Regions from separate parts of the Homo sapiens genome. Here region 1 is linked to region 2. Evidence: fine-mapped expression QTL. A gene starts in region 2. The other region holds a variant in brackets. All regions are shown on one strand. Distances are from middle to middle. Region 1 holds the start of TMT1B (thiol methyltransferase 1B). Region 2 holds the start of ITGA7 (integrin subunit alpha 7).

Evidence for each region. PIP is the estimated chance that this variant, and not a neighbour inherited with it, causes the effect. A credible set is the group of variants that fine-mapping cannot tell apart.
Region 1: its variant is the best candidate, but not a certain one, in a credible set for the expression of ITGA7 in lymphoblastoid cells (GTEx, PIP 0.61).

Annotation. Positions count from the first base shown.
Region 1 is chr12:55,680,374-55,685,741 of GRCh38, forward strand. It overlaps TMT1B (thiol methyltransferase 1B), which reads left to right and starts at 1,363. Exons shown (of 2, transcript NM_152637.3): 1 at 1,363-1,879; 2 at 3,440-4,238. The coding sequence starts at 1,382. The coding sequence ends at 3,676. ITGA7 (integrin subunit alpha 7) reads right to left here. Exons shown (of 25, transcript NM_002206.3): 25 at 4,195-4,915. The coding sequence ends at 4,685. RefSeq lists enhancers at 1,022-1,697, 4,724-5,223. The variant C/T (reference allele first, on the strand shown) is at 3,261.
Region 2 is chr12:55,705,761-55,711,128 of GRCh38, forward strand. ITGA7 (integrin subunit alpha 7) reads right to left here and starts at 2,144. Exons shown (of 25, transcript NM_002206.3): 1 at 1,717-2,144. The coding sequence starts at 1,922. RefSeq lists a silencer at 2,058-2,267.

The sequences.
Region 1 (5,368 bases), 25 kb before region 2:
GGACGTGTAAATGGGTACAATCACTTTGGAAACCCATTTGCTATTATCTACTAAATCCAATACATTGTTAAGAAGGGGGGGAAGCAAGGTATACAAGAGTGTGTACAATATACTACTATTTGTAAAAGAAAAGGGAATATGTATATGTATATATGTACATGGATCTAAACACGTGGTGTGTGTGTTCCCTGCTCGTTCACAGGTCATCTCTGGAAGGATTCACAAGAAATTGGCAATATGGCATTTAGTGCCTCCAGAGAGGAGATCTGAGTGGTTGGGTCACAGGAGTAGAAGAGAGAATTTTCCCTGTAATCTCTTTAGTATCTTTTTAATTTTGTACTAAGTGAATGTACTGCCTCTTCCAAAAAAAGTTGTTTAATAATGTTTTGTAAAAAGAATTCTTCTCAGCCAGGCGCAGTGGCTCCCAACTGTAATCCCAGCACTTTGGGAAGTCGAGGTGGGTGGATCACCTGAGCCCAGGAGTTCAAGACCAACCTGGGCAACAGGGTGAAACCCTGTCTCTACAAATTACAGAAAAAAAAAAATTGCTGGGCATGGTGGTATGCACTTGTAGTCCCAGAAAATCAGGAGGCTGGTGTAAGAGGATCACTTGAGCCTAGGGACATTGAGGTTGCAGTGAGCCCAGACTGCTGCCACTGCACCCCAGCCTGGGCAGCAGAGACCCTGTCTCAAAAAAAGGAAAGAAGGAAAGAAGGGAGGAAGGGAGGGAGGGAGGGAAGGATCTCTAAAAAGTGGCTATTCTCTGACCTCACTTCCCCCTATTTGTCCAACTTACCCCATTCCCCACAGAACTAAACTTCTCACCCTTTCCAGGAGAGGGCATGCTGTCTCTGTCCTGTACACCTACTTTTTCCTCTGCCAAGAGCACCCTTCCCTTCCTATGGCCCCTCTGAAGTGCCTGACCTGAGGACGAAATGAGGCCAGGATATGTCCCATGAGTCAACTCTGTCCCCAGCATTCACCACTACCAACCCACCCCCAACGCCCTGCCAGCCCCCGACACTCCCCCGCCATGAGTCTGTCATCTGAAACATATCCCCTTACCCCTTCCCACTCCCTCTGAGATGACTCAGCAGCCCCTGCCCCCCTTCAGCTGGGCACAGTGCCCCAGAACTCAGGAACATGGGTACCACCTGTCCCTCCGCCCACATAAAAGTCATTGAAGAGCTTGTGGGGCTGTGGGACCTGCGCCCTCTGGAGGAATTCCATACACCCACTCAACTCTGGCAAATAGGAAATTGTCAAGTAGGAGACAAGGAGCAAAGTCCTATCACAGCGGGAGGGGACGCCAGCGCCTGCAGAGGCTGAGCAGGGAAAAAGCCAGTGCCCCAGCGGAAGCACAGCTCAGAGCTGGTCTGCCATGGACATCCTGGTCCCACTCCTGCAGCTGCTGGTGCTGCTTCTTACCCTGCCCCTGCACCTCATGGCTCTGCTGGGCTGCTGGCAGCCCCTGTGCAAAAGCTACTTCCCCTACCTGATGGCCGTGCTGACTCCCAAGAGCAACCGCAAGATGGAGAGCAAGAAACGGGAGCTCTTCAGCCAGATAAAGGGGCTTACAGGAGCCTCCGGGAAAGTGGCCCTACTGGAGCTGGGCTGCGGAACCGGAGCCAACTTTCAGTTCTACCCACCGGGCTGCAGGGTCACCTGCCTAGACCCAAATCCCCACTTTGAGAAGTTCCTGACAAAGAGCATGGCTGAGAACAGGCACCTCCAATATGAGCGGTTTGTGGTGGCTCCTGGAGAGGACATGAGACAGCTGGCTGATGGCTCCATGGATGTGGTGGTCTGCACTCTGGTGCTGTGCTCTGTGCAGAGCCCAAGGAAGGTCCTGCAGGAGGTCCGGAGAGTACTGAGACCGGTAAGCAGGGTGGGAAGGGGATGGGTGTGGGGCAGGCAAACGCAGCATCAGCCGCCCCAGGGTTCGGCCCCCAGAATGGGGCGTCTGAGGTAGTAAGTAGCACATTAGACACCCCATCCACCTCTACCTGCTGGTGAATAGGAGACATGACCAGTGCCATGACGGGGCACAATTGGGTGCTGTGGAAGCAACAGGAGGATCACCTACCACCATGGGACAGGGAGGGGAGTGGGGAGGACACCTAAGGAACTGAGGTTTAAATCGAGATCTGTGCTTGGGAGGCTGAAGCAGAAGGATGACTTGAGCCCAGGAGTTCAAGACCAGCCAAGGCAACATAGTGAGATGCCGTCTCTACAAAAAAAAAAAAAAAAAAAAATACAAAAGCTAGCCAGGCGTGGTGGCACATGCCTATAGTCCTAGCTACTCAGGAAGCTGAGGTGGGAGGATCACTTGAGCCCGAGTTCAAAGTTACAGTGAACTATGATCGCACCACTGCACTCCAGCCTGGGCCACAGAGTGAGACCCTGTATCAAAAAAAATAAATAAATAAATAAAAAGAGAGAGAGAGAGAGAGATCTGAGGGATTAAGCAGAGTGTGGACGGGGTGGGGAAAATAAAAGAGTGTTCTAGGTAAAGATAGTAGGGGAAGTAGAGTAGAATCCATCAGACTGTGGAGAGAACGTTCAGAATAGTTTCCAGGTTTCTAGCATGAGCAACTGAGGGGAGAGCTGATGAAAAGTGCCATTTGCTGAGATGGAAGAAAGCTGTTTTGGACTTACTAGGTTTGAGATCACCTAGGGAGAGTATAGTGAGGCGAGGAGCTTGAGGAACCCCAGCTTCAGTCAAGAGTTGGGCCTGAGGTTTCCCTGGGATGTTCACAGCGATGTCCAGGAAGCAGCTTGTGCATGCATCTGGGTTTTGTGAGAGAGGTTGTGCGTGTATCTCAGAATACAATAAGCCCAGCTGGGCGAGGTGGCTCACGCCTGTAATCCAGCACTTTGGGAGGCAAGGCAGGTGGATCTCTTGAGGCCAGGAGTTTGAAACCAGACTGGCCAACATGGTGAAACCCTGTCTCTACTGAAAAATACAAAAAGTAGCCGGGCGTGGTGGCTCATGCCTGTAATCCCAGCTACTTGGGAGGCTGAGGCAGGAGAATCGCTTGAACCTGAGAGGTGGAGGTTGCAGTGCGCCGAGATCACGCCATTGCACTCCAGCCTGAGCAACAGACTGAGACTCTGTCTCAAAAAATAATAATAATAATAATAATACAATGAGCCCTCCACTCCTGTTTCTCAGTTTCCCCTTCTGCATGCCCTCGGTTATTCTGGTCAGGCTTTAAAGATCTCCCACCAGCCACTCCTTTCAGTTATGAGGTTCTTCA[C/T]ATGCACTTTGAAGGCGGTAGCAGGGGATGCAGAAAAGGTCAGGGGCACGACAGTTTGCTCCATGAACTCTCAGACCAGCAGCTCCCATTTCACCAAGAAGTTTGACTGTCTTGATCAGCGCGATAGGGAGCAGGGTCAGAATGGAGCCAAGTGACACTAACTCTCTCATCCCTCCCAGGGAGGTGTGCTCTTTTTCTGGGAGCATGTGGCAGAACCATATGGAAGCTGGGCCTTCATGTGGCAGCAAGTTTTCGAGCCCACCTGGAAACACATTGGGGATGGCTGCTGCCTCACCAGAGAGACCTGGAAGGATCTTGAGAACGCCCAGTTCTCCGAAATCCAAATGGAACGACAGCCCCCTCCCTTGAAGTGGCTACCTGTTGGGCCCCACATCATGGGAAAGGCTGTCAAATAATCTTTCCCAAGCTCCAAGGCACTCATTTGCTCCTTCCCCAGCCTCCAATTAGAACAAGCCACCCACCAGCCTATCTATCTTCCACTGAGAGGGACCTAGCAGAATGAGAGAAGACATTCATGTACCACCTACTAGTCCCTCTCTCCCCAACCTCTGCCAGGGCAATCTCTAACTTCAATCCCGCCTTCGACAGTGAAAAAGCTCTACTTCTACGCTGACCCAGGGAGGAAACACTAGGACCCTGTTGTATCCTCAACTGCAAGTTTCTGGACTAGTCTCCCAACGTTTGCCTCCCAATGTTGTCCCTTTCCTTCGTTCCCATGGTAAAGCTCCTCTCGCTTTCCTCCTGAGGCTACACCCATGCGTCTCTAGGAACTGGTCACAAAAGTCATGGTGCCTGCATCCCTGCCAAGCCCCCCTGACCCTCTCTCCCCACTACCACCTTCTTCCTGAGCTGGGGGCACCAGGGAGAATCAGAGATGCTGGGGATGCCAGAGCAAGACTCAAAGAGGCAGAGGTTTTGTTCTCAAATATTTTTTAATAAATAGACGAAACCACGAAACCACTAGACTGATGGCAGCAAACTAAGGTCAGATGAGAGGGGAAACTAGAGAAGGAGCAGCCTGAGTCAGTGACACAACCTCCTCCCCGACCCTCTAGGTTAAGGCACTTCCGGGGAGGCAGGTCCTTGGGGTCCTGTTACACAGGGTGAATGGGAGAGGAAGGGATTAGGATCCCTTCTCCCCACCTTTGCATCAGGACACCCCTGCCCTTCTCACCCTACCCCATGGCCCTGTCCCTGATTTACCCACTCTCATCTCACAGCACTCTAAGGGGAAGTTGGGTGGGAGGAGTTCTTGTGGGTGGGAGAGGTCTGTGCCCCTGAGGAAGCCGATCCTGCCAAATCTTGATGCGACACCAGCAGCCCACTCTACCCTCTTCATCCCAAGGAGCCATCTCTGGGGAAGGGATGGAGGGCAGCCACAGGCCAGGCTGGGACATGGGAACCTAGGCGGTGCCTGGCCCTGGATGCCCATCGGGGCCCAGCTCGGGATGCCCGTCAGCAGCCAGGATGGGGTGTGCATCCGGGCCCTCCCGCCGGGGGCTGCCCCAGTTGTTCCTCAGGATGGTGCCCGTCTTCTCCTCCTTGAACTGCTGTCGGTCTTCCCGAGGAATCTTCACCGCATGGTACTGGGGCACGGTGGCCTCGGGGTGCTTCGCCCGTTTGAAGAATCCCATCTATAAGGACACCAGGCCAGACCATGAGGAGCCTGAAGAGCTGCGGTCCCTGGAGCAGATGCCTAGCGCGGCACAGCTCCTCACCCTCACCATCCCTGCTGCGGCAGAAAGGAAATAGGCTGAATAGCATCTGGTGTGGTGGGCAGCACCCACGGTGCTCCCATCAGTGCTGTGTCCCCAGGTTCTCATTCACAGCAAGAGAGAGACCAGAAGGGCGTCCAAGAGGCAGGACCAAGGGTATCTCCCTTGGCCCCTGAAAGAGGGCCTTGAGGGTGGAGCATCAGGACCGGACTCAAGATTTGTACCCCCTCTAGCTTCTTAAGAGACCCAATAGTGTCCCCCAGAACACAAACAAGACCTGAGGAAGAAAATGGCTTCCTAGTCCCCTGCATCTCTGGAATGATACCTCTCAAGCCTCATAAACATGCACCCCGTGTACTTGTACCTTGGGCG
Region 2 (5,368 bases):
ATACTATGTTTATATCCTTTTTACAGTTGAGGGAAGTAAATGAGGCTGGAACCACACAGCAAAGGTTAGACCTTAAAGTCTCATCCCAGAGCTAGACTAAAAGACATCAAAACAGGCAAGAAGTTTTTTTCATCAGTGAGTGCTAAGGCAGGCCACCTGCAACTCAAAAGCTAGGGACTGAGCAGGTGCCTGGCCTCTCACATACCCCCCGCCCCCCAGCAGCAGAGCACCCCCTGCTGGAGCAAAAGCAGGGTGAGGCAGTCAGGCCCTCTGGGAAAGGCCCCAGCTTGGCTCTGGGAGACGGAACCAGGGGCCACCTTCAGAGAGGAGGGGGAAATGACAAGAGACCAAGCTATTAAAAATAACCTAGAATTTGCCTGGAAATAGCTTAGAGAGTTCAGCATGTCCTAAAAAGGCCTCCAGTCCTCGAACTCTGACAGATGGAGAAGGAGGGAGGAAGGGAGGGAGGGAGCAAAGGTGAATGAGGAAGCAGATGGTAAACAGAAGAGGAGATGAAGTCCGTTGCTTTCTATCTCTCCCAAAGTTTTGGGGACCACCGACCCTGCTACCAGATGATAGGGATAATGGAAGAAGAAAGATTAGAGCTAGGCCCCCACTCCCCAAGCAAGTGAGGAGAAATGAGCTCTTGTCCCTGCCCCCTGCCCCCAGACCGACAGTAGAGGCAGAAGACAGTCCCAGTGGACAGCATTGATCCCAGTAATGGATACTTAATGTGGCTTAGGCACTGGTTGAAGAGAGAAAAGCCCCCTAGCAGGAGCAGGTGAGAAGCTTTCTTCACCTCTGGCCTCCCTTTTTACAATCAGACATGTAGCAAGAGCCAAGGATACAGGCAACATGACCAGTCACAGGCCCCTCACAAAAGTATATCCATCTCCCATGGGTCCTGAACTGATTAGAAAAAATTAGAATTGTCCTCCACCCCTTACTCCTCCTGGCCCTTCCCAGCTGCTGAGATTCCTGGAGTTGGAAATTTGCTAAGGAGGAGGAAGGGGAGCAGCCTGGCCAGCATCCTTCCTGGATCTCTCTCACTGCTACAGCTGCTGCGGCTACTACTACTGCTACTAGTACTTTGAGGGTTCAGTTTGCTGCCACTCTCTATCACCAAGCCACCTACTGCAGGTTGGCAGACCTGCAGATCCTCTCCCAATCTTCCCGTGGTCTTAAGCCACAGAAGTGGAAGCTCTCTCCTGGCCTTCCAGTGCCCTGCTGCCCTCATTCCATCCATGGCAATGCTCTAGCAGGAAGTTATTTCTGGAGTCTGCCCTGCATGCATCCCTCTCATGGCACCCTCAACTTCTATGTCCTTTCCATCTCCTCCCATTCTAAGCAGAGACAGACAGTCTCCCTCCCTTGGGGAATTCAGCCCTTGGAAGAAGCAGGGGAGCCAGAGGCCCTGGGGCTGGATCAAGGATGCAAGTTGGGGGAAAGGCCCAGAAGAAGGAGATGGTTCGCTGCCAAGACAAGAACCTTGCTTTCCAACTCATCCCTAAAGCAAAATACTGGTCTCAGGGCCGGGAAGTGCAGCTTCAGACGCAAGCCAGATGAGGCAAGGCTCCAGGTTGGGATGTGGGATGTCTGTGGGCAGTCTAGGTCTTGGTGGGGCTAGAAAACAGAGAAATGAGGAGGCCCACAGAGTGGGGAGGGGGACGATCTGTGGCTCGGGCATGGCGACTCTGGGCGGGTGCGGTGACTCACCAGCTCTGGGGTCGGGGCTGCAACTGCCGGTGCAGGGCCACAGAGAAGCCGAAGAGGCTGCCTGGCTCGCCCTCCTTGCGCAAGGCACCCATCACGTCCAGATTGAAGGCGACAGCCCGTGAGAAGAGCAGTTCGACGAGCAGGGAGCCAAAAAGGTAGCAAATCCCGGAGGCCCCCCAAGGGTCGCGGCTCCGAGCCCCGGCCATGGGACGATCCCTGCGCGAGCTCCCAGCGAATGCAAGGGAAATCTCGCACGCCCCAAGCCCCAGGTCCCCCCAGGCGCGTCTCTGGTCTCCAAAGTCTCGTTGGTCTTTCAGACGTCTCCCAGACGTTCGCCCCGCCAGCCCTCCCGCCCGCCCGCCGCTCCGCCACCCCGCCGCCCCAGCACCGGCTAGGACAACTACAGCAGCCGCAGCTCCGGCGCCCACTCCGGCTCCCGCCTCCTCTCCCGGGGACGCCACTCAGGCCCCGCCTCCGGCCCCGCCCCTCGCTCCCGCGGCAGGTGGAGACCCAAGCCCGTCTCCAAGGGGATGCCCAGGCTGGTGGCTGGGATGGAAACTAGCCTTGCTGACCCCCCACCACCACGCCCCCCAAGCCCAGCACCGTCTCCGGCTCCGCCCCTGCGCGGCGCTCTCCTCCCCTTCTCCCCCAACCCCATCCCCACCCCGGGAGTGGTGGAGGCGGCGCCTTGGAATGCGGAGGGAGAGAAGTACAGATAGAAAGAGAGGGGCTGAAACAGAGGAAGGAGGGTAAGAGATGAGAAGTTGGGAAGACGCTAAAAGACAACCTGGGAAGAGAGATGTGCAGATAGAGAGGAAATGAAAGGGGAGCCGTCCTGGGCCTGGGTGCAGCGTGGCATCTTAGTGCTCCCTGTTCCCCCATGGTCACATAGAGCACTCTTTCTGCTGTTGGGATCAGACCGCTGCCCTCCCCCATCCTATCCCATCCCCCGCCCCCAGCCCGGCAATGACCACAGCAGTGCTAGCCACATCGTCAGGATTCAAGGGAACAGAGAAAAAGAGGCAAGAAGAGAGAGAGAAACTCGGGAGATACGGGGAGCAAATGGAGAAATGGAAAAAGGAAAGGAATAGAGAGGAAGAAAGAAGGGCAAGAGATTAATTGACAAGGGATGGAATGAAGGGAGAAAAGAAAACGACTGGGGATGATTACAGGAAGAGGAAATTAAGCAGTGGGGAGGGGAGTGGGTGTCAAAGAAGGCAAAGATGAAAGAGACTGGACCCAAGAGGCAGAGGGATGTAAAGGGTGTCCCCAGCTACCAGACCCGTCCCAGGACTGCACATTTCCTATCCATGAAAGGGGATGGGAGGGGGCAGAGTCCTGGACTGGCTCAGCAGGACCTGGGTGGGGCTGAGATGGGATCTCCACAGGGACCCATTGGCCTGTCCCTCTTCCTCTCCCTTTCCCTCAGGCTGGGACAGAGGCAAGGGGGTGGGGGGACACTTTCCAACTCTCTGCTATTTATAACTCCGATACAGAAATGGGGCCAGAAGGAGAGACAGGAAATAATTTGGCATAATGGGAACCTCGAATGCTCCCACTTCCCCTTCCTACTCCCCTTGCTTACTGGTGTTGGTCTTGTGAATATACATCTGTCCATCTTCCCTTCTCTCTCTCACTATCTGATTTTGTCTCATCCCAAATTCTATTTTGTCATCATTCTTGTCTCTGCCACACTTGGAATCTTTCTCAGAGTATTTCTCAATGTTTCTAGTGTTGTCTCTGCCCTTCAAACACTATCATATTCTTACGATTCTTTCTTCTCTTTCCCTTTCTTAAAAGTTCCAATAAGTGTCCTACCTCCTTCCTCTTCCTGTGTTCTGTCTTTCCTACTTCATTGTTCAGGATTATACTTCTTTGAAAACAAAAAAAAAGTGGGTTCTTACTCTGCTGCCCTGGGACAGTCTTTGCCTTGGATAAGTTAACAGACATTTGGAAGTCTGGCCCTCTGTTTTCCAATACTACACCTGTGGCTATCCCCTCCAGAGCACTAACACATCTCTAAACAGGTACTATAAGGAAATACATATGCTGTCAGCAGGGCTGGCACCAGGATTCTACTTTCACCATGCCCTCCCCATCCTTTTTAATATCTCAGAGCCCCAGACAGTAGAGAAGAGCTGACATGGGAATGCAGAATTGCAAAATTAGGACAGAACTGGGACTACTGACTCCCTGCCCAGGTCCCCCCGCCCCCGACCCAGCTCAAAATGCCTTTAGAGCCCAAGCTGCCTCCTATCTGCACCTGCAGCTTCTGCCTGTCTCCATTCCCACTCCACTGGCTTCTGTGATCCAGGGCTGAAATCAGATGCCAAGAATCTGCTTCTGACCTCCTCTCTCCAAATATTTGAGAAGTCACCTCACCACCACAGGAGGAAAGATCAGGAAAGAAGAGAGAGAGAGGCCACCCAAAATTAGCCTGGCTATAAATAGAGGGGCAAAGGAGGGAGGGGAACACACAAGAGCGTGCTAGACCAGCCTAGTAAATTTAGACATGTAGATTTCTCTCAAGGAGAAATGAGACCAGAATGTTGGAGTGGAAGATAATATCGTAGGTGAAGAGGGAAATTAAGAAACTAGACGGGGCCGGGCGCGGTGGCTCACGCCTATAATCCCAGCACTTTGGGAGGCCGAAGCAGGCGGATCACCTGAGATCAGAAGTTCAAGACCAGCCGGACCAACACGGTGAAACCCTGTCTCTACTAAAAATACAAAAATTAGCCGGGTGTGGTGGCGGGTACCTGTAATCCCAGCTACTCCAGAGACTGAGGCACAAGAATCACTTAAACCCAGGAGACGGAGGTTGCAGTGAGCTGAGATGGCACCACTGCACTCCAGCCTGGGTGACAGAGACTCCACATCAGAAAAAAAGAAAAAAAAAAGAAACTAGAAGGATCCAGAGAATGCGGTAAGCTCAATATTAAAATAAATAAACTGTTAGAGAACTTCTTGTATTTCAGTCAAGAGCTTAGGAATTAGTTAAATTAAAAATTAATGCTGAGCTGGGCACAGTGGCTCATGCCTGCAATCCCAGCACTTTGAGAGGCCAAGGCAGGAGGATCACTTGAGCCCAGGAGTTGGAGACCAGCCTGGGCAACATAGGGAGACCCCCATCTCTACAAAAAATAGAAAAGTTAGCCAAATCTGTGGTCCCAGCTACTCAGGAGGCTAGGCGGGAGTGTCACTTGAGCCCAGGAGGTGAAGGCTGCAGTGAGCCATGATCTTGCCACTGCACTCCAGCCTGGGTGATAGAGTGAGACCCTGTCTCCAAACAAAAAATGCTGAAACTGTATTATTCCACTCGCATACCATTCTCAAAATGACAAAACTATAGAAATGAAGACCAGATTACTGGCTGCCAGGGGACAAGGATGGAGGGGGGTGGGGACAAACATAAAGGAATAGCACAAGGGGGTTCCTTTGTGGTGATGGGTTTTGTATCTTGATTGTGGTGGTGATTATCCAAATCTATACAAGATATAAAACTGCACAGAACTACAAACAAACAAATAAATGCATGTAAAAAATGGTGAAAACTGAGTGAGGTCTGCAGGCCAGTTAACAATACTGTACCAATATCAACTTTTTGGTTTTGATTTTATGCTACAGTTACATAAGATGTCACCATTAGGGG